Homo sapiens: one gene and its partners. The protein of the gene in region 1 purifies or fractionates together with the protein of each later gene. This does not show direct contact. Each region holds a gene or a part of one and is shown on either strand. Other genes may lie near its edges.

Evidence for each region.
Region 2: the proteins of HFE (region 1) and ITGA6 purify together in Homo sapiens (co-immunoprecipitation; 2 studies listed by BioGRID and IntAct, with this or other methods). This does not show direct contact.
Region 3: the proteins of HFE (region 1) and TAPBP purify together in Homo sapiens (co-immunoprecipitation; 2 studies listed by BioGRID and IntAct, with this or other methods). This does not show direct contact.
Region 4: the proteins of HFE (region 1) and SLC38A10 purify together in Homo sapiens (co-immunoprecipitation; 2 studies listed by BioGRID and IntAct, with this or other methods). This does not show direct contact.

Annotation. Positions count from the first base shown.
Region 1 is NC_000006.12:26,089,699-26,097,621, forward strand, and holds part of HFE (hereditary hemochromatosis protein isoform 1 precursor), read left to right. Parts: intron 1-1,024; exon of another isoform or gene 1,025-1,142; coding exon 1,143-1,406; intron 1,407-1,615; coding exon 1,616-1,891; intron 1,892-2,910; coding exon of another isoform or gene 2,911-2,943; intron 2,944-2,986; coding exon 2,987-3,262; exon of another isoform or gene 3,263-3,328; intron 3,329-3,420; coding exon 3,421-3,534; intron 3,535-4,487; coding exon 4,488-4,528; 3' UTR 4,529-4,705; coding exon of another isoform or gene 4,706-4,713; 3' UTR 4,714-7,923. UniProt on the Homo sapiens protein: Binds to transferrin receptor (TFR) and reduces its affinity for iron-loaded transferrin.
Region 2 is NC_000002.12:172,486,243-172,494,165, forward strand, and holds part of ITGA6 (integrin alpha-6 isoform b preproprotein), read left to right. Parts: intron 1-780; coding exon 781-896; intron 897-1,021; coding exon 1,022-1,211; intron 1,212-1,304; coding exon 1,305-1,388; intron 1,389-1,485; coding exon 1,486-1,565; intron 1,566-1,718; coding exon 1,719-1,796; intron 1,797-1,883; coding exon 1,884-1,986; intron 1,987-2,296; exon of another isoform or gene 2,297-2,407; intron 2,408-3,242; coding exon 3,243-3,416; intron 3,417-4,781; coding exon 4,782-4,880; exon of another isoform or gene 4,881-4,978; coding exon 4,979-5,089; exon of another isoform or gene 5,090-5,182; coding exon 5,183-5,281; exon of another isoform or gene 5,282-7,923. UniProt on the Homo sapiens protein: Integrin alpha-6/beta-1 (ITGA6:ITGB1) is a receptor for laminin on platelets. Integrin alpha-6/beta-1 (ITGA6:ITGB1) is present in oocytes and is involved in sperm-egg fusion.
Region 3 is NC_000006.12:33,303,156-33,311,078, reverse strand, and holds part of TAPBP (tapasin isoform 1 precursor), read left to right. Parts: intron 1-5,691; coding exon 5,692-6,090; intron 6,091-6,440; coding exon 6,441-6,782; intron 6,783-6,861; coding exon 6,862-6,951; intron 6,952-7,089; coding exon 7,090-7,124; coding exon of another isoform or gene 7,125-7,304; exon of another isoform or gene 7,305-7,473; intron 7,474-7,923. UniProt on the Homo sapiens protein: Involved in the association of MHC class I with transporter associated with antigen processing (TAP) and in the assembly of MHC class I with peptide (peptide loading).
Region 4 is NC_000017.11:81,284,659-81,292,581, forward strand, and holds part of SLC38A10 (solute carrier family 38 member 10), read right to left. Parts: intron 5,151-7,923; coding exon 5,033-5,150; coding exon of another isoform or gene 5,012-5,032; intron 2,692-5,011; exon of another isoform or gene 2,687-2,691; intron 238-2,686; coding exon 192-237; intron 1-191. UniProt on the Homo sapiens protein: Facilitates bidirectional transport of amino acids. May act as a glutamate sensor that regulates glutamate-glutamine cycle and mTOR signaling in the brain. The transport mechanism remains to be elucidated.

The DNA of each region.
Region 1 (7,923 bases):
GAGCAGATTCCTGAGCTCAGGAGTTCAAGACCAGCCTGGGCAACACAGCAAAACCCCTTCTCTACAAAAAATACAAAAATTAGCTGGGTGTGGTGGCATGCACCTGTGATCCTAGCTACTCGGGAGGCTGAGGTGGAGGGTATTGCTTGAGCCCAGGAAGTTGAGGCTGCAGTGAGCCATGACTGTGCCACTGTACTTCAGCCTAGGTGACAGAGCAAGACCCTGTCTCCCCTGACCCCCTGAAAAAGAGAAGAGTTAAAGTTGACTTTGTTCTTTATTTTAATTTTATTGGCCTGAGCAGTGGGGTAATTGGCAATGCCATTTCTGAGATGGTGAAGGCAGAGGAAAGAGCAGTTTGGGGTAAATCAAGGATCTGCATTTGGACATGTTAAGTTTGAGATTCCAGTCAGGCTTCCAAGTGGTGAGGCCACATAGGCAGTTCAGTGTAAGAATTCAGGACCAAGGCTGGGCACGGTGGCTCACTTCTGTAATCCCAGCACTTTGGTGGCTGAGGCAGGTAGATCATTTGAGGTCAGGAGTTTGAGACAAGCTTGGCCAACATGGTGAAACCCCATGTCTACTAAAAATACAAAAATTAGCCTGGTGTGGTGGCGCACGCCTATAGTCCCAGGTTTTCAGGAGGCTTAGGTAGGAGAATCCCTTGAACCCAGGAGGTGCAGGTTGCAGTGAGCTGAGATTGTGCCACTGCACTCCAGCCTGGGTGATAGAGTGAGACTCTGTCTCAAAAAAAAAAAAAAAAAAAAAAAAAAAAACTGAAGGAATTATTCCTCAGGATTTGGGTCTAATTTGCCCTGAGCACCAACTCCTGAGTTCAACTACCATGGCTAGACACACCTTAACATTTTCTAGAATCCACCAGCTTTAGTGGAGTCTGTCTAATCATGAGTATTGGAATAGGATCTGGGGGCAGTGAGGGGGTGGCAGCCACGTGTGGCAGAGAAAAGCACACAAGGAAAGAGCACCCAGGACTGTCATATGGAAGAAAGACAGGACTGCAACTCACCCTTCACAAAATGAGGACCAGACACAGCTGATGGTATGAGTTGATGCAGGTGTGTGGAGCCTCAACATCCTGCTCCCCTCCTACTACACATGGTTAAGGCCTGTTGCTCTGTCTCCAGGTTCACACTCTCTGCACTACCTCTTCATGGGTGCCTCAGAGCAGGACCTTGGTCTTTCCTTGTTTGAAGCTTTGGGCTACGTGGATGACCAGCTGTTCGTGTTCTATGATCATGAGAGTCGCCGTGTGGAGCCCCGAACTCCATGGGTTTCCAGTAGAATTTCAAGCCAGATGTGGCTGCAGCTGAGTCAGAGTCTGAAAGGGTGGGATCACATGTTCACTGTTGACTTCTGGACTATTATGGAAAATCACAACCACAGCAAGGGTATGTGGAGAGGGGGCCTCACCTTCCTGAGGTTGTCAGAGCTTTTCATCTTTTCATGCATCTTGAAGGAAACAGCTGGAAGTCTGAGGTCTTGTGGGAGCAGGGAAGAGGGAAGGAATTTGCTTCCTGAGATCATTTGGTCCTTGGGGATGGTGGAAATAGGGACCTATTCCTTTGGTTGCAGTTAACAAGGCTGGGGATTTTTCCAGAGTCCCACACCCTGCAGGTCATCCTGGGCTGTGAAATGCAAGAAGACAACAGTACCGAGGGCTACTGGAAGTACGGGTATGATGGGCAGGACCACCTTGAATTCTGCCCTGACACACTGGATTGGAGAGCAGCAGAACCCAGGGCCTGGCCCACCAAGCTGGAGTGGGAAAGGCACAAGATTCGGGCCAGGCAGAACAGGGCCTACCTGGAGAGGGACTGCCCTGCACAGCTGCAGCAGTTGCTGGAGCTGGGGAGAGGTGTTTTGGACCAACAAGGTATGGTGGAAACACACTTCTGCCCCTATACTCTAGTGGCAGAGTGGAGGAGGTTGCAGGGCACGGAATCCCTGGTTGGAGTTTCAGAGGTGGCTGAGGCTGTGTGCCTCTCCAAATTCTGGGAAGGGACTTTCTCAATCCTAGAGTCTCTACCTTATAATTGAGATGTATGAGACAGCCACAAGTCATGGGTTTAATTTCTTTTCTCCATGCATATGGCTCAAAGGGAAGTGTCTATGGCCCTTGCTTTTTATTTAACCAATAATCTTTTGTATATTTATACCTGTTAAAAATTCAGAAATGTCAAGGCCGGGCACGGTGGCTCACCCCTGTAATCCCAGCACTTTGGGAGGCCGAGGCGGGTGGTCACAAGGTCAGGAGTTTGAGACCAGCCTGACCAACATGGTGAAACCCGTCTCTAAAAAAATACAAAAATTAGCTGGTCACAGTCATGCGCACCTGTAGTCCCAGCTAATTGGAAGGCTGAGGCAGGAGCATCGCTTGAACCTGGGAAGCGGAAGTTGCACTGAGCCAAGATCGCGCCACTGCACTCCAGCCTAGGCAGCAGAGTGAGACTCCATCTTAAAAAAAAAAAAAAAAAAAAAAAGAGAATTCAGAGATCTCAGCTATCATATGAATACCAGGACAAAATATCAAGTGAGGCCACTTATCAGAGTAGAAGAATCCTTTAGGTTAAAAGTTTCTTTCATAGAACATAGCAATAATCACTGAAGCTACCTATCTTACAAGTCCGCTTCTTATAACAATGCCTCCTAGGTTGACCCAGGTGAAACTGACCATCTGTATTCAATCATTTTCAATGCACATAAAGGGCAATTTTATCTATCAGAACAAAGAACATGGGTAACAGATATGTATATTTACATGTGAGGAGAACAAGCTGATCTGACTGCTCTCCAAGTGACACTGTGTTAGAGTCCAATCTTAGGACACAAAATGGTGTCTCTCCTGTAGCTTGTTTTTTTCTGAAAAGGGTATTTCCTTCCTCCAACCTATAGAAGGAAGTGAAAGTTCCAGTCTTCCTGGCAAGGGTAAACAGATCCCCTCTCCTCATCCTTCCTCTTTCCTGTCAAGTGCCTCCTTTGGTGAAGGTGACACATCATGTGACCTCTTCAGTGACCACTCTACGGTGTCGGGCCTTGAACTACTACCCCCAGAACATCACCATGAAGTGGCTGAAGGATAAGCAGCCAATGGATGCCAAGGAGTTCGAACCTAAAGACGTATTGCCCAATGGGGATGGGACCTACCAGGGCTGGATAACCTTGGCTGTACCCCCTGGGGAAGAGCAGAGATATACGTGCCAGGTGGAGCACCCAGGCCTGGATCAGCCCCTCATTGTGATCTGGGGTATGTGACTGATGAGAGCCAGGAGCTGAGAAAATCTATTGGGGGTTGAGAGGAGTGCCTGAGGAGGTAATTATGGCAGTGAGATGAGGATCTGCTCTTTGTTAGGGGGTGGGCTGAGGGTGGCAATCAAAGGCTTTAACTTGCTTTTTCTGTTTTAGAGCCCTCACCGTCTGGCACCCTAGTCATTGGAGTCATCAGTGGAATTGCTGTTTTTGTCGTCATCTTGTTCATTGGAATTTTGTTCATAATATTAAGGAAGAGGCAGGGTTCAAGTGAGTAGGAACAAGGGGGAAGTCTCTTAGTACCTCTGCCCCAGGGCACAGTGGGAAGAGGGGCAGAGGGGATCTGGCATCCATGGGAAGCATTTTTCTCATTTATATTCTTTGGGGACACCAGCAGCTCCCTGGGAGACAGAAAATAATGGTTCTCCCCAGAATGAAAGTCTCTAATTCAACAAACATCTTCAGAGCACCTACTATTTTGCAAGAGCTGTTTAAGGTAGTACAGGGGCTTTGAGGTTGAGAAGTCACTGTGGCTATTCTCAGAACCCAAATCTGGTAGGGAATGAAATTGATAGCAAGTAAATGTAGTTAAAGAAGACCCCATGAGGTCCTAAAGCAGGCAGGAAGCAAATGCTTAGGGTGTCAAAGGAAAGAATGATCACATTCAGCTGGGGATCAAGATAGCCTTCTGGATCTTGAAGGAGAAGCTGGATTCCATTAGGTGAGGTTGAAGATGATGGGAGGTCTACACAGACGGAGCAACCATGCCAAGTAGGAGAGTATAAGGCATACTGGGAGATTAGAAATAATTACTGTACCTTAACCCTGAGTTTGCGTAGCTATCACTCACCAATTATGCATTTCTACCCCCTGAACATCTGTGGTGTAGGGAAAAGAGAATCAGAAAGAAGCCAGCTCATACAGAGTCCAAGGGTCTTTTGGGATATTGGGTTATGATCACTGGGGTGTCATTGAAGGATCCTAAGAAAGGAGGACCACGATCTCCCTTATATGGTGAATGTGTTGTTAAGAAGTTAGATGAGAGGTGAGGAGACCAGTTAGAAAGCCAATAAGCATTTCCAGATGAGAGATAATGGTTCTTGAAATCCAATAGTGCCCAGGTCTAAATTGAGATGGGTGAATGAGGAAAATAAGGAAGAGAGAAGAGGCAAGATGGTGCCTAGGTTTGTGATGCCTCTTTCCTGGGTCTCTTGTCTCCACAGGAGGAGCCATGGGGCACTACGTCTTAGCTGAACGTGAGTGACACGCAGCCTGCAGACTCACTGTGGGAAGGAGACAAAACTAGAGACTCAAAGAGGGAGTGCATTTATGAGCTCTTCATGTTTCAGGAGAGAGTTGAACCTAAACATAGAAATTGCCTGACGAACTCCTTGATTTTAGCCTTCTCTGTTCATTTCCTCAAAAAGATTTCCCCATTTAGGTTTCTGAGTTCCTGCATGCCGGTGATCCCTAGCTGTGACCTCTCCCCTGGAACTGTCTCTCATGAACCTCAAGCTGCATCTAGAGGCTTCCTTCATTTCCTCCGTCACCTCAGAGACATACACCTATGTCATTTCATTTCCTATTTTTGGAAGAGGACTCCTTAAATTTGGGGGACTTACATGATTCATTTTAACATCTGAGAAAAGCTTTGAACCCTGGGACGTGGCTAGTCATAACCTTACCAGATTTTTACACATGTATCTATGCATTTTCTGGACCCGTTCAACTTTTCCTTTGAATCCTCTCTCTGTGTTACCCAGTAACTCATCTGTCACCAAGCCTTGGGGATTCTTCCATCTGATTGTGATGTGAGTTGCACAGCTATGAAGGCTGTACACTGCACGAATGGAAGAGGCACCTGTCCCAGAAAAAGCATCATGGCTATCTGTGGGTAGTATGATGGGTGTTTTTAGCAGGTAGGAGGCAAATATCTTGAAAGGGGTTGTGAAGAGGTGTTTTTTCTAATTGGCATGAAGGTGTCATACAGATTTGCAAAGTTTAATGGTGCCTTCATTTGGGATGCTACTCTAGTATTCCAGACCTGAAGAATCACAATAATTTTCTACCTGGTCTCTCCTTGTTCTGATAATGAAAATTATGATAAGGATGATAAAAGCACTTACTTCGTGTCCGACTCTTCTGAGCACCTACTTACATGCATTACTGCATGCACTTCTTACAATAATTCTATGAGATAGGTACTATTATCCCCATTTCTTTTTTAAATGAAGAAAGTGAAGTAGGCCGGGCACGGTGGCTCACGCCTGTAATCCCAGCACTTTGGGAGGCCAAAGCGGGTGGATCACGAGGTCAGGAGATCGAGACCATCCTGGCTAACATGGTGAAACCCCATCTCTAATAAAAATACAAAAAATTAGCTGGGCGTGGTGGCAGACGCCTGTAGTCCCAGCTACTCGGAAGGCTGAGGCAGGAGAATGGCATGAACCCAGGAGGCAGAGCTTGCAGTGAGCCGAGTTTGCGCCACTGCACTCCAGCCTAGGTGACAGAGTGAGACTCCATCTCAAAAAAATAAAAATAAAAATAAAAAAATGAAAAAAAAAAGAAAGTGAAGTATAGAGTATCTCATAGTTTGTCAGTGATAGAAACAGGTTTCAAACTCAGTCAATCTGACCGTTTGATACATCTCAGACACCACTACATTCAGTAGTTTAGATGCCTAGAATAAATAGAGAAGGAAGGAGATGGCTCTTCTCTTGTCTCATTGTGTTTCTTCTGAGTGAGCTTGAATCACATGAAGGGGAACAGCAGAAAACAACCAACTGATCCTCAGCTGTCATGTTTCCTTTAAAAGTCCCTGAAGGAAGGTCCTGGAATGTGACTCCCTTGCTCCTCTGTTGCTCTCTTTGGCATTCATTTCTTTGGACCCTACGCAAGGACTGTAATTGGTGGGGACAGCTAGTGGCCCTGCTGGGCTTCACACACGGTGTCCTCCCTAGGCCAGTGCCTCTGGAGTCAGAACTCTGGTGGTATTTCCCTCAATGAAGTGGAGTAAGCTCTCTCATTTTGAGATGGTATAATGGAAGCCACCAAGTGGCTTAGAGGATGCCCAGGTCCTTCCATGGAGCCACTGGGGTTCCGGTGCACATTAAAAAAAAAATCTAACCAGGACATTCAGGAATTGCTAGATTCTGGGAAATCAGTTCACCATGTTCAAAAGAGTCTTTTTTTTTTTTTTGAGACTCTATTGCCCAGGCTGGAGTGCAATGGCATGATCTCGGCTCACTGTAACCTCTGCCTCCCAGGTTCAAGCGATTCTCCTGTCTCAGCCTCCCAAGTAGCTGGGATTACAGGCGTGCACCACCATGCCCGGCTAATTTTTGTATTTTTAGTAGAGACAGGGTTTCACCATGTTGGCCAGGCTGGTCTCGAACTCTCCTGACCTCGTGATCCGCCTGCCTCGGCCTCCCAAAGTGCTGAGATTACAGGTGTGAGCCACCCTGCCCAGCCGTCAAAAGAGTCTTAATATATATATCCAGATGGCATGTGTTTACTTTATGTTACTACATGCACTTGGCTGCATAAATGTGGTACAAGCATTCTGTCTTGAAGGGCAGGTGCTTCAGGATACCATATACAGCTCAGAAGTTTCTTCTTTAGGCATTAAATTTTAGCAAAGATATCTCATCTCTTCTTTTAAACCATTTTCTTTTTTTGTGGTTAGAAAAGTTATGTAGAAAAAAGTAAATGTGATTTACGCTCATTGTAGAAAAGCTATAAAATGAATACAATTAAAGCTGTTATTTAATTAGCCAGTGAAAAACTATTAACAACTTGTCTATTACCTGTTAGTATTATTGTTGCATTAAAAATGCATATACTTTAATAAATGTATATTGTATTGTATACTGCATGATTTTATTGAAGTTCTTGTTCATCTTGTGTATATACTTAATCGCTTTGTCATTTTGGAGACATTTATTTTGCTTCTAATTTCTTTACATTTTGTCTTACGGAATATTTTCATTCAACTGTGGTAGCCGAATTAATCGTGTTTCTTCACTCTAGGGACATTGTCGTCTAAGTTGTAAGACATTGGTTATTTTACCAGCAAACCATTCTGAAAGCATATGACAAATTATTTCTCTCTTAATATCTTACTATACTGAAAGCAGACTGCTATAAGGCTTCACTTACTCTTCTACCTCATAAGGAATATGTTACAATTAATTTATTAGGTAAGCATTTGTTTTATATTGGTTTTATTTCACCTGGGCTGAGATTTCAAGAAACACCCCAGTCTTCACAGTAACACATTTCACTAACACATTTACTAAACATCAGCAACTGTGGCCTGTTAATTTTTTTAATAGAAATTTTAAGTCCTCATTTTCTTTCGGTGTTTTTTAAGCTTAATTTTTCTGGCTTTATTCATAAATTCTTAAGGTCAACTACATTTGAAAAATCAAAGACCTGCATTTTAAATTCTTATTCACCTCTGGCAAAACCATTCACAAACCATGGTAGTAAAGAGAAGGGTGACACCTGGTGGCCATAGGTAAATGTACCACGGTGGTCCGGTGACCAGAGATGCAGCGCTGAGGGTTTTCCTGAAGGTAAAGGAATAAAGAATGGGTGGAGGGGCGTGCACTGGAAATCACTTGTAGAGAAAAGCCCCTGAAAATTTGAGAAAACAAA
Region 2 (7,923 bases), on another chromosome or scaffold:
CTGGTGCCTTACTGAGGCAGCTTTGCAGAAGTGAGTCCTCACTGTCTCAGGAGCTGATGCTTACATCTGCATATTGTCAATCATTTTTGTCACCAAATATAGTTCCTTATATTTCTGTATACTTTTATGTACTTTTATTATTATCATGTTAATATTACTTGTGTACATTCCCAGCTCCATAGCTAGAGATGATTTTCTATTTATCGGTGTGATTATCAAGAACCCATTGGCATGGTGCTAGTATGCTGTTTGCTTACCTGACCTTAAGCTCTCTGTTTCGTCATCTCTACAATGGAGATCATAATAATAGTATCTTTTTAGAGGCCTGTTGTGAGGATTAAATGAGTTAAGATATGTAAATCGAGTATTATAATCGTTGGTATCATCATTATTATTGATACTTCTTATAGTAGCCCTATAAAGTTAGAATGGTGGTATCTCCACGTTACCTATGATGAAACTTGGACTCTGAAAGGTTAAGTGACTTGCTAGCTAAGTAAGGGGTAGAGCTGCGTTTCAAACCCAAATCTGTGTGGCTGCTGGGTCACACTCTTCTATACCACACTGCCTCCATGCCCTGGTCAAAGTGTTCTTCAAACACAATTTTACTAAAGGACAGAATGGAAATTTGATGTGTGGCAAAGTACATTTAAAGCTTGAATTCTGCATTGGTAATTGTCACACAGGGAAATGAACTGTGTGGAATAGCCAGTCACCTACATCGATGCCTTCCTGAGTCCTGAATGGTGTAAATTGACAATAGTTTTCGTTTTCCTACAGGTTCACTTCTTAAAAGAGGGATGTGGAGACGACAATGTATGTAACAGCAACCTTAAACTAGAATATAAATTTTGCACCCGAGAAGGAAATCAAGACAAATTTTCTTATTTACCAATGTAAGAATCGTTGTGTAGCACTAGCAAAAATGATTCTGGCTTCATGGTGGCTTTGTGTTAAGAAAGTTTACTGGAAACGTATTGAGGACTTTGCCTTTTTGTTCTTGTTTTCTTATTTTTAATAGTCAAAAAGGTGTACCAGAACTAGTTCTAAAAGATCAGAAGGATATTGCTTTAGAAATAACAGTGACAAACAGCCCTTCCAACCCAAGGAATCCCACAAAAGATGGCGATGACGCCCATGAGGCTAAACTGATTGCAACGTTTCCAGACACTTTAACCTATTCTGCATATAGAGAACTGAGGGCTTTCCCTGTAAGTATTGTTAGAGACCAGCTGAGAGGGGAAAAAAATCAACACTGTGTGGCAAATGAGTGGATTGTGACCTAGCGTGTGTTTCTTTTACAGGAGAAACAGTTGAGTTGTGTTGCCAACCAGAATGGCTCGCAAGCTGACTGTGAGCTCGGAAATCCTTTTAAAAGAAATTCAAATGTAGGTGATGCCTTCATATACTGTATTTTACTGTTTTAAATACCATTGCAGTGTCTGTATGCATGGCCTGTGTTAACAGCTATTTATGTTTTTTTAGGTCACTTTTTATTTGGTTTTAAGTACAACTGAAGTCACCTTTGACACCCCAGATCTGGATATTAATCTGAAGTTAGAAACGTAAGAGTTACATCAACCTCTCCATTCAGAATTATTTCATGAAAATATGGGCAGTCAATGAATTGGCCCTGATCTACCTCATAAAAGAAGTCTAATTGTAGTGAGAAAACTGACTGGTAAAATACAACCCTATTGTTTCCTTTTCATTTTCAGAACAAGCAATCAAGATAATTTGGCTCCAATTACAGCTAAAGCAAAAGTGGTTATTGAACTGCTTTTATCGGTCTCGGGGTAAGTGTTTGTGTTTAGCATAACAAATCAATGTTTGAAAGAACCATTTACAATCCTCATTAAAACTGGTGTTTTTTAATTTGACAGAGTTGCTAAACCTTCCCAGGTGTATTTTGGAGGTACAGTTGTTGGCGAGCAAGCTATGAAATCTGAAGATGAAGTGGGAAGTTTAATAGAGTATGAATTCAGGGTAAGTTGGAGCAGTTGGTCTTTTCATTATACCAAAAGCTGACATATACTAGGTATGGTCTTGAGTATGTCATTTTAATAAATCAGCAATATTAATAAGCATTGTAAGTAAATCATGAGTTAAAAATTAGTTTGCCAGCTTTTAAAGAACATACTGGCTTATAGTAAAAATTTTATCCTCCAGGATGGAGAACAATTGTCACTGTTCAGAATCCAGTTCAGTTTAGAATGCGTTATGATTTATTCCTTCCTCCTTTATAAGGTCATCTTTCTCACTGCTTGTGGTTGAAAGAATATTAATGTATGCCTACCTTTCACAAGCCCAGTTTTTGTGGTGAATGTAGATTTGGTATATGCCTGTAGGAAAGGCAGTGACTGGCTCTGAACCATTTCAAAGTAGGCAATCACAGTGACTCTCTGTCCTGTTGAATAAACATAAACATAGGGTACAGAGTCTGTTCGTAACTCACACATGGGTTTAGGTCTGTGTGGCTGAAATCACATTCCTGAAGGCATAGTGACCACTGTGGTGAAAGCCTCAAATGGCAAGCATGGGCCCACCTGACTCCGGCAGAATGAAGAGGCTGAATTCTCCTCTGTGTGTCTCTTAGCATTATAGACACAGCTGGGGCAGGTGGTGGTGGTGGTTATGATCTCTATGCAGGTGCAGCTGGAAAAGAAGTCTTTGGGTTCTGGAACAGTCTCGACACCAAGAGGGCTCTTACCTCCTGTGTTTGGCTTCTGCCGCAGGACGTCACTCTGTTCCCAGCTTGGACTCTCAGATTCATGGCTGTCCTAATAATGGTTTTGCAGAATCTCCTCTGGGACAGAGGCAGCTTCATTTTTGCAGTGGATGGGGTTTTCCAGAAGCAGGTTGTTGGTACACTGCCTTGGCCCAGGACTTGTCATTGGCCAAGCAGGGTGGTTACAGGGCAGTTCACAAATTCACACATGATTTTCCCTGGGCGTATGTTGAGAACATGGTATATCTACACTGCTGATTCTGTTGCATACAGCAGTTGTTCCTAGAACGAGTTAGCTATCAGTTGTCCTTTGACCTTTTTGTTTTTATTTACAAAAATCTTTAGGCACAAGTCTTTATTTTGAATGCCCTATCTATAGTCCATTTTTGGAGCCTGTGCTTTTATTATAGGATTACGTTAGATATTTTAGCTTCTTTCTCTTGGTAAAAGGAGCTGCTACTTAAATTTACATTGAGAAGATTAGACTGAGATAATATGTATTATTTTCTAACAGGTAATAAACTTAGGTAAACCTCTTACAAACCTCGGCACAGCAACCTTGAACATTCAGTGGCCAAAAGAAATTAGCAATGGGAAATGGTTGCTTTATTTGGTGAAAGTAGAATCCAAAGGATTGGAAAAGGTAACTTGTGAGCCACAAAAGGAGATAAACTCCCTGAACCTAACGGTATGTCGGTAGATTTATCTAATGTCTCCATAAATGCAAATTAGAGAAACTAACTTGTTAGGGGAAAATCATTACTGTTCTTAGGAAAGTGGCATATTCTGGCAGGTTGACTTTCTCTTTGGTTGTCACAATTTCTCTTTTCTAGTTGGGTAACTGAGGGAGGCTGAGGCATTTTTGCTGGTTAATGACCATTATAGTACATAAGGCAGAGTCATTCAGTGCTTGCTGAGGCAAATGGTATTTTCTGATGTTTCATCATGACCCAGTATGTTACATAATAAGGAGAACTGGGGGATGCTCCTGGGGTAATAGTAGCTGCTGTTATCCAGGGGCCAGCCAGTGTTCACTCCAAGTAGAACCAAACTCATTGGAAAAGATAATGGCATCTCAGCAAGTAACCTTGAAAGCTTTTTATGCTTATTTTTAAAATAGTAATTATTTATTGTGTACTCATTGTGTCTCAGGAACTATGCTAAGCATTTTGTTTTCATTTTCTCATTTCATTCTCTGGATGGTCCTATGAGGGCGTTTCATTATCCTCACCATTTCACAGATGAGGACATTAAGATTCAGAGAGCAAGTAACTCTCTCAGTCACTCAGGCGTTAAGAGACAGATTCCACATACAAGCCCTGCTCTGCCTGATGTCAAAGCCTGTACTGTTAACCCCTCTCTCTATACTGCTCCATGCTTAGATAACTGGCCTATCATTTGTGTTCCAGTTTGATGAAGGTTTGCATGTTTATTTCTTTTATTTTAAATTCTAAGGTGACTGGGTATGATCAGTGATCAGAGTTGGTGGCTTATAGCATGATCTTCTACTCATCAATGTTAAAAATCAAGATAATCGGTTATTACTAATCTTTGCTATAAGGAAAATGCAATTTTAAAAGTTCTTGTATGGCTTAGTTTTCATTGCTCTGCTCTGAATGAGCTATATAATGGGTCTTTTTGCTTCTTTCTCTGTTCTTCAGTGTCACTTATTCCTTCAAGATGTGCTGACTACCATGTTTTAGGAACAGAGCTGGAGGCTAGGGATACAGGAATAAGATTTGATCTCTGATCTCAGTATGCCCACAGTTTGGTGGGGATACAGAGGAACAAAGAAAGCATATTTCTCTTTCTCTGAGTTTTAAGGTCAGAGTGGGAATGAATTACTTAGTCCTATGAGTAAATCAATAAACTTGAATTTAGAGTGATAATACTTGCTGGTTTTACACTTACTTCTGTGCCTTTGGCAGGAGAGAGGCAAATATTGTTGATTATGTGAATCTGGCACTGTTTGGGAGGATATGCTCAAGAGGCTTGTATGGTAATGACAAAGAATTACATAAATTGGAACTATTTTGGATATAATTTTTTTCAGGAGTCTCACAACTCAAGAAAGAAACGGGAAATTACTGAAAAACAGATAGATGATAACAGAAAATTTTCTTTATTTGCTGAAAGAAAATACCAGACTCTTGTAAGTATTTTTCAAGAGCTGTGAATATTTGAGAGGATGAGGGGAAGGATTTCTTCAGAACAATGTCTTTTGATGACCATTCTTCTTTTTCTCTCTAGAACTGTAGCGTGAACGTGAACTGTGTGAACATCAGATGCCCGCTGCGGGGGCTGGACAGCAAGGCGTCTCTTATTTTGCGCTCGAGGTTATGGAACAGCACATTTCTAGAGGTATGACCTTGGCTTGAGGCTGTCCCATGGAAGTAATTTGCCTTTGCCTAGGACACTTTTCACTTCCCTAATGCATTCACTGTCTCCAAACAGGAATATTCCAAACTGAACTACTTGGACATTCTCATGCGAGCCTTCATTGATGTGACTGCTGCTGCCGAAAATATCAGGCTGCCAAATGCAGGCACTCAGGTGAGAGGTTCCCCAGCTTCATTCAGGTTCAGAACATGTCTCTTTTCCCTGTACCCCACACTCATGTCCTGAAGTCATGTGCTTTGGTGCTCATTTCCCTCATAGCCCCATTACGGAGAAAACTGTCTTAAGGTACTGGCACTGCAAGCTGTATTTTAATAGAATCATTGAAAAAAAGAAGTAAATCTAGGGTCATCCAGTTCAGCAGTGCCCATGGTAGGTTTGAGAACTACTGGCTCAATTCAGAGAATGGGTGCACCTCACAGCCCTCTAGAAACCTGTGTCTTCTACCATCTCTAATGCTGCAGCCATTGGTGTAATGCCCCAGTGATGGCCCATCCCTTGGCCAGCTGTAATTATTAAAAAAGATCTCTTCATAGCTGACTCCTGAACTGAACCTTGTAAGTCCCTGGTTATGCCCCTCAAACAAGTCTAAAATAAGTTCTCTCTCTTGGCCATGTAGCAGCCTCTCAAATAATTGAAGGAAATGGTCATGCCTCCTTGGATGTTTCTTATTCTTCTCAGAGCTTATGCACCCAGCTCTTGAGTTATGCGTCACATTGGGCACAGCTGAACTGGCTCCTGGCCTCTCCCTTCCTGGGCAATTTGATTCCCACGTGGACAGAGCAGCTGAGGTGGGGTCTGCTTGGTCCCACTTACCCTGGGGCCTTTACCTCTCAGCATCTCGGCACCACACTTCTGTCAGACCTGCCTAAAATTTGCTTTTTCAAACCATTGCTGAGCAGCATGTTTGAATTTCTAGCAGCTGCTATTTTTGTGTTAGTGTTCTACTGAAACTTCCAGGTGTTTTCATCAGAATTTGTTGTCAAGCTGTGTTTCCAGTATCCTGTCCTTGAGCTATTTGTAAAAATCTAAATGTATGCCTTTAAGTGTATCCTTACATTTTATGTGATTTGCTTTGGGTCCATTGTTTCAGTTTGCAAAGTAATTCTGAATCTTGCTTCATCATTTGCTTTCTCAACTTTCTATCCCTGAAAGTTTTAAAAACTGAGAAGCATGTTCTCTATGTCTTCATCCAGGTAATGACAAATATGTTGAATAGGACTAGGTGTAGAACCTTGTAGTGAACCAATAGTGAGGGGTTCCCTGTGGGAGTCTAGAACCCACAGGGACTTGTATAAAGATCTCGAGGCAGAATGACTGCATGTCATGGTGGGAATAATGAATGGGAATGTTTTGCAAAAGAGACTGGAGAAAGAAATACTGTGAATTACTGTTCTTAAGTTAATCTGCCAGTCTACTTATGGAAATGTTCTGGCTTCAGTCATTTAGCTAGCTGAAAATTCAGGGAGCCTCCCTAATCATTCTGTTTTCTGAAATATAGCAGTCCTTACGATTTATTATCCAAGCAAGAATACATTTTTGTTTTTATTTAGTTTTTTGAGATGGAGTCTTGCTCTGTTACCCAGGCTGGAGTGCAGTGGCGCAAACACAGCTCACTGCAGCCTTGAATGCCTGGGCTCAAGCAATCCTCCTGTCTCACCTCCTGAGTAGCTGGGACCACAGGCATGCCACCACGCCCAGCTAATTTTTCAGTTTTTTTTGTATAGCCAGAGTCTCACCATGTTGCCCAGGCTGGTCTTTAACTCCTGGACTCAAGCAATCCGCCTGCCTCAGCCTCCCAAAATGCTGGGATTATAGGTGTGAGCCACTGCACCCAGCCCCAGGATACATTTGCCTGAGACAAATGCTGTACTGGGCAAGCTGCTGCGATAAGTGGTATCAACCAGCACTGTCCCGGTCTCTCCAGGACATATCAACAGGCATCATAAGGGACTTTCAAATAAACCACACCTTCCCTAAGGATCCTTTCTCTGCATCTATAAAGGCAGCAGGTATAGCTTTCTATAACTGTAAATCAGCAACTCTGAAAATCACTGAGATTTCAGAGCTAGACAGAGAACACTTTAGAGGGAAGGGACTAACATTAATGAAGCCTTAATAAAATGTCTGCAGCTTACTAGATACTTTATACTCTATCATTCAAACTTCAGAAGAATGCCAAGGGTAAACATTGTACTCATTTTACAAACAAGGAAGCAGACTCAGAGAGGGGATATAATTTGAGACCCTCAATTGAAACCTGTAATTGTCTGACTTCAGGGCTTCTGTTCTTTGACTCTGTGGCACTTGGTCCCCTTAAAGTCCCCAAATCTCAAATTGAGATAAGAAAACTGAATCCAAGGAAAGGTATCTCCCCGTCAGGGTCACCCGACCAGCAAGTAGAGCTGAGACCAGACCTTGGGTCTGATGTCTCCTCTTCAAGTGCTGTCTTCTTCTGGAAGATGATGGAACTCTGGGGGCCCTGGTGTCCAGTCTGATGACTGGGTCACAAATGAAAGTGAGGTTCTCTTGGGCATTTTATGTTCTTAGAGCTTGGAGAACTCATGCCTCCCAGTGGGAATTGATGTCTTCACAAATTGGTAGATTTGTGAATGGGTTACTGGTCTCATATCTAGAACCCATGTCTTTTGAAAATTGAGACATTTTCTTAACCTCTAGTCTTCTGACACCTTTTCTGTTTTCTGTGATTTCTGACATACAATAGCTCAGATGTCATATCTGCACATTTCTTGAGTAGTTTGAGCTGTAGTTTTTCTGGGCTTGAAGATCTAAGCTTA
Region 3 (7,923 bases), 7.2 Mb from region 1:
TTCCAAAGTGCTGGGATTACAGGCATGAGCCACCACGCCCGGCCTGCTGTGCTCTTTCTTTTCAAGCATTTCTGCTTGATCAGGGATTTAAGAAAATGAAAGCTGTTGTACTGATGTAAAATTAGAAATGAAATCTCTCCAGGGTCCAAGATCATTCATGATTTTGCTAATATACATTTATACTTGTCTTATCAAATATTTTTAAATGTTTATTGACAAATATGCTTATTTATTTATTTATTTGAGACAGGGTCTCCCTCTGTCGCCCAGGCTGGAGTGCAGTGCAGGCTGGAGAGCAGTGGCATGATCTCAGCTCACTGCAACCTCCACCTCCGTGGCTCAAGTGATCCTCGTGCCTCAGTCTCCTGAGTAGCTGAGACCACAGGCATGTGCCACCATGCCCAGCTAATTTTTGTATTTTTTTTGTGGAGATGGGTTTTTGTCAGGTTGCCCAGGCTGGTCTTGGACTCCTGGGCTCAATTGATCTGCCCACCTTGGCCTCCGAAACTGCTGGGATTACACGTGTGAGCTGCCTGGCCCCAAATATACTTTTTTTTTTTTTTTTTTTTTTTTGAGACAGAGTCTCACCCTGTTGCCCAGGCTGGAGTGCAATGGTGTGATCTCTGCTCATTTCAACTTCTGCCTCCTGAGTTCAAGTAATTCTCCTGTCTCAGCCTCCCAAGTAGCTGAGACTACAGGCGCCCACCACCAGGCCCAGCTAATTTTTGTATTTTTAGTGGAGACAGGGTTTGGTCATGTTAGCCAGGCTGGTCTTGAACTCCTGACCTCAGGTGATCCACCCACCTCAGCCTCCCAAATTGCTGGGATTACAGGCGTGAGCCACCACGCCAGGCCTATACTTTCTTAATATACTTTGTGTGTATAGTGTTTAATTCTCACCATTCTTTTAAAATATTATGGAGTCAGGTGAGGTGACTCACGCCTGTACTTCCAGCACTTTGGGAGGTCTAGGTGGGAGGATCATTTGCACTCAGGAGTTCAAGACCAGCCTGGGCAACATAACCAGACCTTGTCTCTACTAAAAATTAAAAAAATGCTGGGCGCAGTGGCTCATGCCTGTAATCCCAGCACTTTGGGAGGCCGAGGTGGGCAGATCACCTGAGGTCGAAAGTTCAAGACCAGCCTGACCAACATGGAGAAACCCCGTCTGTACTAAAAATACAAAATTAGCCAGGCATGGTGGTGCATGCCTGTAATCCCAGCTACTCGGAAGGCTGAGGCAAGAGAATTGCTTGAACCTGGGAGGCGGAGGTTGCAGTGAGCCAAGATCATGCCACTGCACTCCAGCCTGGGCAACAAGCGTGAAACTGTCTCAAAAAAAAAAAAAAAAAAAAAAAGGTTGGGTGTCGTGGCATGTACCTATGGTCCCAGCTACTCGGGAGGCTGTGTTGGGAGGATTGCACCTTTGATGGGTGACAGAGTGAGACCCTGTCTCCAAAAAAAAAAAAAAAAAAAAAAGAGTTAAACTGTAAAACCTTTAGGTCTTGTTTATTATTTTTTTAAATTTTTTCTTTTAAATAGAGATGGGGTCTTGCTATGTTGCCCAGGCTGGTCTCAAACTGCTGGGTTCAAGTGATCCTCCCACCTCAGCCTCCCAAGGTACTGGGATTACAAGTCTGAGCCACCCTGCCCAGCCAGGTTTTGTTTATTAATTCTATGGATTTTTTTTTTTGAGATCAAGTTTTGCTCTTGTTGCCCAGTCTGGAGGGCAATGGCATGATCTCGGCTCACCACAACCTCCGCCTCCCAGGTTCAAGTGATTCTCCTGCCTCAGCTTCCCAAGCAGCTGTGATTACAGGCGTGTGCCACCATGCCCGGATAATTCTGTATTTTTAGTAGAGACGGGGTTTCTCCAGTCTGGTCTCAAACTCCCAACCTCAGGTGATCCACCGGCCTCGGCCTCCCAAAGTGCTGGGATTACAGGCGTGAGCCACTGTGCCCAGCCTGTGGATCTTTTTTTTTTTTTTTAACAATTCAAAAGTATGTTTCTGGATTTTGACAAACTAAGTGAAATTGCATACTGTTTTTACTCTACTGAACAATTCCATGAAGATGAGAACAGTTTAACCTTATAGGCCTCAGAAGCTAGGATTAAAAAGAACATAAAAATAATTACAAGAAGAAAAAGATTACTTCTACCTGAAGGACCTAGACATTTCTGGGAAGAAACAGCAGTGAAAGTGACCTTCATGTACATGGAGTATTTAGATCAGGGGTCTCCAATCTTTTGGCTTCCCTGAGCCACACTGGGAGAAGAATTGTCTTGGGCCATGCATAAAATATACGAACACTAACGATGGCTGATAAGCTAAAAAAAAAAAATGTGAAAAAATCTCATAATGTTTTAAGAAAGTTTATGAATTTGTGTCGGGCTGTATTCCAAGCCGTCCTTGGCTGCATGTGGTCCCTGGGCTGGAGGTTGGACAAGCTTGATAGATGTTTGGGAGAAAATGGGAAAGACAATGTAAACTGAAGGGACCTCATGACCAAAGCAAAGAGATGACCAATGATGACCACTTCTACTAGGCACAAGAAAGGGGTTCTATGTGGCTGGTTTGTAGGGTGCAGGAGAAGCCTGGAAGGGTGGGTTAGGGGCTGAATGTTCAAATACCTTGAAAGCTGGGCTTTGTTCTGTAGGTGAGAGCGAACCATCAGAAGTTCTTTTGGAGGGCGTGTTATTCTAAAAAGCCTGTTTTTATTATGTACATATTTATTTTTTGAGACGGAGTTTCACTCTTGTCACCCATGCTGGAGTGCAATGGGGTGATCTTGGCTCACTGCAACCTCTGCCTCCTGGGTTCAAGCAATTCTCCTGCCTCAGCCTCCCAAGTTGATGGGATCACAGGCACCCACAACCACGCCCCGCTAATTTTTTTTTTTTTTTTTTTTGTATTTTTAGTAGAGATGGGGTTTCACCATGTTGGCCAGGCTGCTCTCGAACTCCTGACCTCAGGTAATCCACTCGCCTCAGCCTCCCAAAGTGCTGGGATTACATGTGTTAGCCACCATGCCCGGAAAAAGCCTGTTATTTTACTTGATTCTTTTAAAAGATAGGCAAAGGTCAGATCTTTGGACTAGTGAGGAAAATACAGGTTAAATGATTTTTCCAAGTTAACCAGCAAGTCCATGATAGTGATGAAGGTAATGAAAATAGTAACAGCTAACATTTATCAAGTATTTTCTATATGCCAGGCCCTGTTCTAAGCACTTTATATGCATAATCTCACTTATTCCTCTCAACAACCATAGGTTGTAGGTTTTAATATTATCCCTGTATTGCATATGGATAAATATAGGACACAAACCAGTTAAATAATTTGCCCAAGGACACACAGTGTGTAAGAAGCAGAGCTAGAGGCCAGGCGTGGTGGCTCATGCCTGTAATCCCAGCACTTTGGGAGACCAAAGCAGGTGGATCACCTGAGGTCGGGAGTTCAAGACCAGCCTGGGCAACATGGTGAAACCCCATCTCTACCAAAAATACAAAAATTAGCTGGGCACGGTTGTGGACGCCTGTAATCCCAGCTACTCAGGAGGCTGAGGCAGGAGACTCACTTGAACCTGGGAGGCAGAGGTTGCAGTGAGCCAAGATCACACCACTATACTCTAGCCTAGGTGACGAGCAAAACTCTATCTCAAAAAAAAAAAAAAAAAAAAAAAAAAGAAGCAGGGCTAGAAATTGAACCCAGGCCATATAGCTTCAGCCTATGCCTTTATCAGCTGACTTCCTAGGTATTTGGGATTTTTATTTTATTTATTTATTTAGTTTTGAGACGGAGTCTCACTCTGTTGCCCAGGCTGGAGTGTAGTGGCATGATTTCAGCTTACGGCAACCTCTACCTCCCAGGTTCAAGTGATTCTTCTGCCTCAGCCTCCCAAGTAGCTAGGACTACAGGTGCCTGCCCCCACACCTGGCTAATTTTTGTATTTTTAGTAGAGACAGGGTTTTGCCATGTTGGCCAGGCTGGTCTTGAACTCCTGACCTCAGGTAATCCACCCGCCTCAGGCTACCAAAGTGTTGGGATTACAGGTGTGAGCCACCACGCCTGGCCGTATTTGGGATTTTTTTTTTTTTTTTTGAAACGGGGTTTCCCTCTTATTGCCCAGGCTGGAGTGCAATGGCACAATCTCGGCTCACCGCAACCTCTGCTTCCCGGGTTCAAGCAATTCTACTGCCTCGGTCTCCCGAGTAGCTGGGATTACAGGCATGTGCCACCACACCAGGCTAATTTTGTATTTTTAGTAGAGACGGGGTTTCACCATGTTGGTCAGGCTGGTTTCAAACTCCCGAACTCAGGTGATCCACCCGCCTCGTCCTCCCAAAGTGCTGGGATTATAGGCATGAACCACTGCGTCTGGCCCATATTTGGGATTTTTAAACAGGTAGGTGATGGGATCAGACTTGTAGTCACTTTGTTTGGCTACAGTGTGAAGAAGGAGTTGAAGGAGAGACTGAGAATAGGGAGACCAGACAGGAGGGCTGTTGTAATTGTCTAAACGTACATTGATGAGAACCTAAATTGGAAACAGATGTGAGATCTGTTAGGTCCTGGTGGGGATAGCACATAGCACATTATTTTTGACAATTTGCTTGTCTGTCATTGGACTATAGGCAATTTGAGAGCAGGGACTGCTTGTCTTGTTCACCATTCTGTCTTCTACCAGGATACCTTGAACATCTTCAGTGCTCAATAGTTGCTGAATGAATAAATGAGTCTGAGTAACTCCAAGGGTTTGCTTTTAGTGTCTGGCGGGCTTGGTGATCATTCATCAAAGACAGGGAAGATGGGCATTGGAGCAGGGTGGGGAATGTTGCAGAGATGCTGTTGACTTGGGGTATGCTAAGTTAGGTGTAACTATAGCAAACACGTGTAGACTTACTGTGTTCCAGACAGTGTTGTAAGCACCCTTCATGGGTAGGTGTCTCTGTTATCTAAAATTGGGAACTGAATAGACTTGAGTAGCAAGAGGTATTAATGATTTAACCATCACAACAACCTCATGAAGTAGGTACTATTATTATCATCAACTTTTAATTTTAGAGATTAGGAAGCTGAGCCATGGAAAAAGGAAGTGGCCCAAGGCCATATAAATAAGCTGCAGAGGGGATTTGAACCCGGTCAGCCAGGCTCCAGGCACTTAGCCACTGCACTGTACTGCTTCAGTAGAGCATAGAGGTCTGTGCTCAGGTCTAGGCTAGAGCTGGAACCTTCTAGAGTCAGTAAATATTCTGTACAGCACCACAAGACTGACAGTCATGGCTCAATCATTGTCTTCGCCTGTAATCAAGAAAGGCCTGGTTCCTCAAGGGTGGTGCTTGGAGATAGAGTGGTTCAGGTTGTGTCAGAAGTGGCCTCGGATTCTGCAGTCCCCCGAGCTAGAGTGTGCTATGTGTTCAGAGTAGGCTTCAAAGGCCATACCCCCTCATTGCCCCTACTCACCACCCCTAGACCTCTCTGCTCACCCTCAGCCACACTAGGTGCCACCCAGTCGCAGAGCAAAAGGAGTTTGCAGGGAGGGCTAGGAAATGGTGAGTATCAGAAAAGGTGTCCTCTGAGGGGTGGGTAAACTGCAGTTTAGCCCTCCCCAATAACTGCATTTCTCTATTTTTTTCTCCTTCTTTCTCTCCCTCATGCCCCTCCCAACCCCTCATCTCCCTGTCTTCCTCAGTGGTACTGACTGTCCTCACCCACACCCCTGCCCCTCGAGTGAGACTGGGACAAGATGCTCTGCTGGACTTGAGCTTTGCCTACATGCCCCCCACCTCCGAGGCCGCCTCATCTCTGGCTCCGGGTCCCCCTCCCTTTGGGCTAGAGTGGCGACGCCAGCACCTGGGTAAGGGACATCTGCTCCTGGCTGCAACTCCTGGGCTGAATGGCCAGATGCCAGCAGCCCAAGAAGGGGCCGTGGCATTTGCTGCTTGGGATGATGATGAGCCATGGGGCCCATGGACCGGAAATGGGACCTTCTGGCTGCCTACAGTTCAACCCTTTCAGGAGGGCACCTATCTGGCCACCATACACCTGCCATACCTGCAAGGACAGGTCACCCTGGAGCTTGCTGTGTACAGTGAGTTGGGGGACAGAGGTCTCCAGGGGTAGAGGGTGGGCACTGGATTGTGGGGACCGTAATAGGGGGAGGGATGATGGATAAGAGGGTGCCTGGGCAAGTAAGTAGAGATAGAAAGAGGTTCCTGGGAGTTAGAGGGGTAATGGGAGGCTAGAAGTTTCCTGGAAATTTGAGGGGCTTTGACATGGGTATTTCTGTGACGCACCAATGGAGAGACAGTGGGTTCCCTATTTCAGGAGAAGAAACCTAACCTTCTTTAGTTCTGAGGAAGCCAGCAGGCAAACTGAGGGTCTCTTAGGGAGGACAGTATGGACTGATTTCCCTATGCTCATTTCGTCCTCTTTCCCCAGAACCCCCCAAAGTGTCCCTGATGCCAGCAACCCTTGCACGGGCCGCCCCAGGGGAGGCACCCCCGGAATTGCTCTGCCTTGTGTCCCACTTCTACCCTTCTGGGGGCCTGGAGGTGGAGTGGGAACTCCGGGGTGGCCCAGGGGGCCGCTCTCAGAAGGCCGAGGGGCAGAGGTGGCTCTCGGCCCTGCGCCACCATTCCGATGGCTCTGTCAGCCTCTCTGGGCACTTGCAGCCGCCCCCAGTCACCACTGAGCAGCATGGGGCACGCTATGCCTGTCGAATTCACCATCCCAGCCTGCCTGCCTCGGGGCGCAGCGCTGAGGTCACCCTGGAGGTAGCAGGTAAGAGCTGGGAGCTCTGCGGAATCTGAGCCAGCACCCAGGAAGACAGGAGCTCACTCTCACCCCTTCTGCCTGCCAGGTCTTTCAGGGCCCTCCCTTGAGGACAGCGTAGGCCTTTTCCTGTCTGCCTTTCTTCTGCTTGGGCTCTTCAAGGCACTGGGCTGGGCTGGTAAGTGTCAGCCCTACCCTGACCATGACCTGAGGTTGGTGGACTTTCCCCACCTACTCCCAAGAGCCTGACACCCATCCCTCTGCCCTCCACCTCTACCACTCCAGCATCCCATCCCTTCTCAATCTTTCCCCACAGCTGTCTACCTGTCCACCTGCAAGGATTCAAAGAAGGTACAGTGCTCCACCTCTCTGTATCTTTCCCTTGTCACTTTATCTCCTCATCCTATCTCAAAACCCATGGAGGGAGGCTGCTGGTGTGGTAGGCAGAACCTAGGCTTGGAATTCACACTGATCTGGGTTAAAACCTGGCACTATATCCTAACTGTAGGACTCTTTGAGCATGCTACTTAATCTATATGTTTCCTTGGGTGTAGGGATTTTAAAAAGTTACTTAGGCAGTGCTGTCCAATAGAAAGATAATGCAAGCCACATATGTAAATTTAAATACTCTAGTACTCACATTAAAAAAATAAGCAGAAACAGGTAAAATTAACTTAATAATATACCTTATTTAATCTAATAATTCTGGTCCCTTATCTGAAATGCTTGGGTCAGAAGTGTTTTTGGATGTTGGATTTTTTCAGACTTTGGAATATTTGCATATATTTAATATCTTTGGGATCAGACCCAAATCTAAACACAGAAATCATTTATGTTTCCTATACACCTTATACACATGGCCTGAAGATTTTTTTCCTTCTCTTTTTTTTTGAGACAGAGTCTCTGTCGCCCAGGCTGGGGTGCAATGGTGCGATCTCGGCTCACTGCAACCTCCACCTCCCAGGTTCAAGCGATTCTCCTGCCTTAGCCTCCCGAGTAGTTGGGATTACAGGCACCCACCACCACGCCTGGCTAATTTTTGTATTTTTAGTAGAGACGGGGTTTCACCATGTTGGTCAGGCTGGTCTCGAACTCCCGACCTCAGGTGATCCGCCCGCTGCCTTGGCCTCCCAAAGCGTTGGGATTACAG
Region 4 (7,923 bases), on another chromosome or scaffold:
GAGTTTTCCATACATAAATTTTTCTTACAACACTGAAGGGTACAAGTAATTGGACTTTCATGTATTTAGCGACTCTTCAGAAACCTAAGTTACAGGTGAATCTGGGGATGAAACTGCCGCTCCCACCGGGAGGGTCCCCAGTGTCTGGGTGCGGGGGTGGGGGGCAAGCGCAGCGGCAGGGCGGGGCTTACCTGGTCTCCACCAGCATCTTGCCTGCCTTCCCGTAGGCGTGGAATGCTAGTGCAAAAGAAAAAGGAACACTCAATCCAACAGCGTGAGAAGCTCGTCCAGAACAAAGGTACTGAGCCAAGCTGTCAAGGGCGATTTCACAGAAACCCACGGGCCCAGATTCTCCGGGGCATGAGGGGTATTTCAAATTCTGGCTGCCAGGTTATTTTTGGATCTACTGTCTGCAAATGAAACTACAAGAAACAAAGACAGAGCAAGGGAAGGACAGGAGGCAGGTTCTTCTTTCACTCAATCAGATTTTTTAACAGACAAAGAGACAAGTCCCTGCGATGCAGTCCTCCCACCCGGTGACCACTGGGGGCCGGCTGGAAACAGCATCCCACAGCCCAGCACGGCCGAACCCCGTGCTGCTGGCCAGAGCTTGCAGGTCCCCAGAGGGTTCAGTGCCGGTCCCAGGTACCCGAGCGCCACAGCCTGCACCAGAGGGACTCTGACGGAGGGCTTTCATTTTCACCCTTTGGTTGGGATTTATAGAAACAAATGGAGACTCCTTTCGAGCATGGTGCTTCAGGAAGGGAGGGGACGAGAGCCCTGGGCTTGTGGTGTCCACGTGGACAGCTAATGAGGAGCCTTGCCGATGAGGAGCATGCGTTCCCGACGGGGCGGCCGAATGCGGAAGGAGCCGCCATTCTCTCCGCCCTGACCGCGGGATTCTCTGCAGCAGATGAGAAACGGCGCTGACTCAGCAGGGTCCCTCCCAGGCCCCGAGCGGTCATCTGGTGACCCCCGCGCTTCCCCCACGGCCCAGCCGGAGAAGGGCAAAGGGAAGTCCCGGCTCCAAGGCGCACCCAGAGATGCGGTGCATGTGGCAGGATGGCCCAGCCCCGTCGGCAGCCCCAGCTTCCTGCCCCTGGTTTCCTTCCTCCCACGGGCTACAGGCCTCTGATGAGCTTTGGAAAGCAGGAAACACACAGGCTAGTAACTATGAATGGGTCCAAAAAACACTCCTTATTACTTTAAACTACTTAGGAAGAAGCACAGCGTTGCCAAACGCCAGAGCCCGGGAGCAGCAAAGACCCCACCTCCAGGGCTCACCCTGGCCTTTCCTGGACCTGCCTATGGGCTCGCTGAAGAAGCCTGGCACCCCTTGAGTTCATCCCACAACACGGAAACCCGAGCCAGGCCCCAGAAGCTGACCTGAGGCTGTGGAGAGTTTCAAACACTAAGAACTCCAGGAGCCCCCTCAGCAGCCCACAGCCCAGGGCCCTGCTGTCACCAAGGAACGCCCTCCACACCCCTCAGTGACGGCACAGCCCGGAAGCAACAAAACACGGCGCTCCAAACATGAAGTTGCTCCTGGCCATAATGTGCCTTTTCATTCTCCAAAAGGAAGCTGAGTCTCTACAGCATATTCCAAACACGAGCGCACCTTGCCCAAGAAGGTTCCGGAATATGCCTGCCACTGGCAAGGGAAAATGGGAGGCTGTCTAGGAAATCAGGGCAGCACTCTCTTCTGGTTCCCAGGACAACGTCCTGAGAGCCCACCACGCTGAGACACGGCCCCACGCGCCTTCTTTTCCCCACCTGGGCCAAACCCTCACCCGCCATTCCCAGTGTCAATCCCTCGGCAACTTCTCCTCCCCAGGTTCAAACACCAGCCCCAGTTGGACTGACCCCACTCCTTCACATCCTGCGTGGACTGGCACAGAGAAAGGGAGGAAGAGGCTGAAGCGCCCAGCAAGGTCCCGGGGACCCAGCCCTCCCCCGAGTGTGGACTCCCAGTGCGGGCCCAGCCCCTGCCAGGCTGGAGGTATCTGTGAGCGGCGAGCTCTGAGGGCGCGGCCTCCATGCAGGGTGTACCCTACCCCAGGTGCAGTCAGATCTCCCCCAGAGCCAGCACAGGAGCCACAGAAGCCTGGACCACCCAACGAAAGGACGCGGGCAGCACTCCTGACACCGCTGCTCACAACCGAGAACTCAGAGGCCGCGTGGGGGCCAAACAGTCCCTGCTGCTGGGGGAGGCGGTTTCTAGCCCAGACCACGCATGCCAGGGTTCAGGCACAACTCTCAACAGGGCAGGGTCTGGGGCTCAGAACAGCTTCATGAGAAGCCGCGACAGCTGAAGGAGGCTGAATGACTGATGTATCTGTGTGTCTTCTGAAGAGGGGATTTAGAAAAGTCCATGTCCAAGCAAGACACGCAGGGCAAGGAAGCAGCAAGTGAGAAGGTGACGAAAACGACAAAAACCACCTGCAACCAGCAACAGCAAATAGGACAGGGAAATATACAAACACCAACAAAAAACGACACCTCTCCAGGCTGGCACATGGCACTGGAGGACAGCGGGGAGGGTAAAGCGATCAGCGGCCACCTCCCCAGGCTAACCAACCCGAGGAACCATTACACCGCAAACCTATGCCTGGGTGGGGGCAGATGCCATTCGGAGGAAACCACCCAGCCGTCCCAGGGAAAGTCAGTCTGTGTGCGAGGACGGGACCCAGCCCGGCGCCTCCTGAAGACTGCAGTGTGGAGCTGCTGTCCACTCTGCACAAGGGCCTCGCCTCAGCTCCAGGAGAGTCTCATCTTACCCTCCCCAGGGACGCCTCTCCCAGCGCGGGTCTCCCCACTTCTAAGACGAGCCAGGGCACACTGCAGCTGACGCGGAGCAGCTGGGCCCAGGGGCCTCTGTCCGGAGCTCACGCAGTGGAACCACCGTGTTTGGTGTCAAAGGCATAACCTGAGACACACTTGGTGTTTTGGAATCTTTTTTGTTTCTGGCAGGCAGAAGTGGACTGCGGTCACCCCATGCAGGTAAAGGTTGGAAGCTCAGGCAGGAGTTCCAGGCAGCACAGAAGAGCACCCACCCGGCAATTTTCTTCCAGTCCTTCACATGTAGCCAAACTGGTTTGACTTTTCAGGGACTTTGAATGAATAGACAGCTGGCTATCAGAAATGGGGGCCTCCCCAGCCCTGGGTCACCGGTCTTCTTCCAGGACACAGCCAAGGACTGGAGTTGGGGCCTCTGCTACAGAAACCCTATACAGAGACCTCAGTGAGGAGAAAAGGGTCGCCCTGCAGGCCACAGCTCTGCAGACCCAGGAAGGGGCCCGCCCAGGCACGGTGCCTCCTGGCATCCGGTAGGCATCTTTCAGCCCAAGTTGCATTAGGCCATCTCACTGTGGATCAAACTTAACAGTGAACTTCACTTCCTCAAATAACAACAAGAAAAGACTCTGACAGCACCATTCTCATCAGGAAGGGAGGAGAAGGAATACATCCCCTCCGGTTCTGAGGGCCGAAACGAACGCAGGACTCTCTGTGGCAACATGAAGGGGACTGGGAGGAAGTGGAGGCTGGGAGGCCAGGACCCACGTGTGGACCGTGCAGGTGTTTTTATTTTGTTTGGCCCCCTGGACCCCTAAACACCATTTCCTCTCCCGCCACCTCCTCACTCTGCCGCGGGAGCTGTGAGCCCGGGGGGCAGGATGGCCTTCTGCAGGGAGGACCTAACATCCCAGCCGCACACTGGCTGGAAGGTCCAGAGCCTTCATCACAAGGCCAGAGTTTTCACCAAAACCCACAGGGCCAACTCCTGAGAACACGGATGCTGGAATTTCAACACCCAGGCTGGATGCCCCCAGAATGGAACGTGGAGCCGAGAGGTGCCGAGCCTGTGGCGGGCAGGGAGACAGCGCGGGCCACACAGCCTGTGGGCAGACGGGAAGGTGAGGGATGGCGCCCTCGAAGACAAACAACGTAGAAAATATTCCACACTGAAATGAAGCAGAAAGCGCAGCCTTCTCTCCTGGCTGAAACAGCATTAAAGCAAGAAAGAACTAAGGGAAACAAAACTGCAACCAACAGCATCAGGGGAAGGACACAGCCACTGGGAGAGGAGCCACTGAACTCCAGCAACAGCCCAGGCCTGAGGAGCTTCCTCCATGGAATTCCGAGTTGGGGAGAACAGCAAGGCTCTCTGCAGGCAGCTCCGCAGGAAGGCATCTGGTGTCCAGGAGAGACACAGAGAGAGCAGGTCTGCACCAGCACGGTGAGGACGGCTGTCTTGGTCTGAGTTTAGAAGAGGAAGCTTGTGTGGACCTGCATGGGAGCGGGCAGGAGGGCATGGTGACAGGGAGACCTGGCGCCTCATACCCTTCTGTGTCACTCCAATTTTGAAGCATGTGATTATAACAGGTTTTTCTTTTTTTTTCCAGACAGAGTCTCACTCTGGCACCAAGGCTCGAGTGCAGTGGCGTGATCTCAGCTCACTGCAGCCTCCACCTATCGGGTTCAAGAGATTCTCTGGCCTCAGCCTCCTGAGTAGCTAGGATTACAGATGCCTGCCACCATGTCTGGCTAATTTTTTGTATTTCTGGTAGAGATGGGGTTTCACCATGTTGTCCAGGCTCGTCTCGAACTCCTGACCTCAAATAATCCGCCTGCCTCGGCCTGCCAAAGTGCTGGGATTACAGGCACGAGCCACCACGCCCGGCAGGTTTTTTTTTTAACTGCATTTTTTTTTAATTTGATTTTTAATTCTTTTGAGACAGGGTCTCGCTCTGTCACCCAGGCTGGAATACAATGGCGTGATCACAGCTCACTGCCACCTCAGACTCCTAGGCTCAGGTGATCCTCCCACCTCAGCCTCCCAAATAGTAGCTGGGACGACAGGCACGTGCAACCACACCCGGCTCATTTTTTTGCAGCATTACATTTTAAAATAAAAAAAACCCTGCTATCCAAGGAATTCTTGAAGAATCAAGTAGAGTAAATAAATAAATAAATAAATGGAATAAGGCCCCCGCCCCAGGTCCAGAGCCACCTTGTGGAGAGGGCGCCTCACCCAGGCCGGCGTAGGTCCTCCGCTTGCTCAGGCTGGCCGACTTCACCAAGAACATGCACGACTGGTGCGTCATCCATGAGCAGAAGACCAAGAGCAGCGCCCCCAGGACGATGCCGCACTGCAGGGTGGAGACAGGAACACATGTTCACAGCAGCAGGTGCTCCCCAGAGGCCCTCACCCCACACACGCGGCTCATGAGGACCCTCTTCACCCCCAGGCCCCGCTCCATCCCAGTCTCCTGCCGAACGCGACACTTCCTAGCACTGAAAGGGCCATTTCCTTGCTGTGGTGGCCGCGCGCCTTGTCCAGGGATGAAGCTGTATGCGCAGAGCACAGGGGTGCCATCTCCTTCCCAGTCCCCACCTCAAGTCTTCATGGACAGCGGGGTGCTGCCAACTAATACCCCCTTGTTCTCTGCACACACCCTACATGCACCATCTTTAGCCACTTAAGTCCACAGCTACAAGTAATGAACACATTCTGGAAGAGATTAAAAATGCCATTTTCCCCGTTCTCATAAGTTAAATAGACACTTACTGTGTGACCTGGGGATTAACTGCACCCCTAGGTATTCACTTACCAAGAGGAATGAAAACGTGTTCATGAAAAACCTGTATGCCAATGTTTACAGCAGGTTTATCCACAACCCAAAAATGGAAAAACAACCCAAATGTCCTTCAACAAGCGAATGGATACAAACTGTGGTCCATTCGAATAAGGGAATATTAGTCAGCAGGAAAAAGGGATGACTACTGACACCCACCATGACACGGATGGGACTCAAACGCACCATGCTGAGCAGAGGAAGCTGGACTCTGAATGCTACAAACAGTGTCATTCTGTTTACAGGAAACTCAGAAAAGGCAAACTTTTAGGCCAGGGAACAGCTCAGTGTTGCCAGGGGCTGGGGGTGTGGAGATTTGGCTGATGACAAAGGGGCACATGGGGACCCTCTGGGGGATGAAGCTGTGTGTTCTGTTTGACTGTGGTGGTTACACAGCAAGCCCATGACCTGCACCCTAAAAAGAGTCAATCAGCCGGGCACGGTGGCTCACACCTGTAATCCCAGCACTTTGGGAGGCCGAGGTGGGCAGATCACGAGGTCAGGAGATCGAGACCCTCCTGGCCAACATGGTGAAATCCCATCTCTACTAAAAATACAAAAATTAGCTGAGCATGGTGGTGTGTGCCTGTAATCCCAGCTACTTGGGAGGCTGAGGCAGGAGAATCACTTGAACCAGGGAGTCAGAGGTTGCAGTTGAGCCGAGATTGCGCCACTGCACTCCAGCCTGGCGACCGAGCAAGACTCCGCCTCGAGAAAATAAAAAGAGAGTGAATCTTCCTGCATGTCCACTACCTCCATCGAGGTGACACTTAAAACACAAGGACCGCCACACTAGTGCGAGACGTCAGTCACGTGAACCTAGCTGGACGGTGAGGGGGGCGGGGGCGCTGCACTTTCCAGTCTGTTGTTCTGTAGACTTAAAACTGCTCAAACACATAAGTCCGGCTGGGCACACTGGCTCACAACTGTCATCCCAGCACTTTGGGAGGCCGAGGCAGGTGGATCATTTGAGGTCAGGAGTTCGAGACCAGCCTGGCCAACATGGTGAGACCCCCACCTCTACTGAAAACACACACAAAAAATTAGCCAGGCTTGGTGGTGGGCGCCTGTAATCCCAGTTACTTAGGAGGCTGAGGCAGGAGACTTGCTTGAATCTGGGAGGTGGAGGTTGCAGTGAGCTGAGATTGAACCATTGCACCCCAGCCTGGGTGACAGAGTAAGACTCCATCTCAAAAAAAAAAAAAAAAAGTAAGTCTATTAATACCAAAAACTCATGAGATATCACCAAGCACTCATCAGAATGGCTCCAGCGGAAAAGACACGATACCCAATGCTACCGGGGATGCGGGCCGGCATGTGCACCACTGCACCCACATGGCAGCTCCAGAGCGGAGCACACGCACCCTGGGGCCCGGCCACTCCACACAGGCACGCACCCAGCAGAAACCACCCCCTGCCAACGCCTGTCCAACTCCTCAGGGCATCACAAGAGCTCCCAATAGGAGACACCGTAAATGCCTCACAGGGGTAAACTACACACAGACACGCATGGCGGTGCAGCGGACACCAGAACGCAAGCCAGACACTCGCACTAGACACCTGCACAGCAGGACCCACCCACCTCAGTTCAAACCAGGCAGCACCACCGTGGCACACTAGGGGTCAGCAGTGTGCCCCGGGTAGGCCGCCACGGCCACAGAGTACGCTCCTTAATTTGGGAGCTAGTCACACGGGTTTGCTCGTCATATGAAAATTCATCAACAGCACATCTAAAGAAGTGTGTACACATTTTTGTATGTCAAACTTCAATGTTTATTATATATATAATCTATATAGATCTATATCTATATCTATCTAGATATAGATATAGATATATATTTTTGTTTGTTTGAGACAGAGTCTCACTCTGTTGCCCAGGCTGGAGTGCAGTGGCGCGATCTTGGCTCACTGCAAGCTCCACTCCCGGGTTCAAGCGATTCTCTTGCCTCAGACTCCCTAGTAGCTGGGACTACAGGCGCCTGACATCGCGCACAGCTAATTTCTGTATTTTTAGTAGAGATGGGGTTTTATCATCTTGGCCAGGCTGGTCTTGAACTCCTGACCTCGTGATCCACCCTCCTCAGCCTCCAAAAGTGCTGGGATTACAGGCGTGAGCCAACACGCCCAGCTATGTATATATATAAATATATCAAAACTACTAAAACAAAAAAAAAAACACTAATCCAAAGTTTTTCAATGCCAAGGCTGCCAAACACTAAACACACACATCCCCAAATCGCCTGCTGGCGTCTCCCTGCGCCCCAGTCCAAGAAGGCTGCCGTGGAGG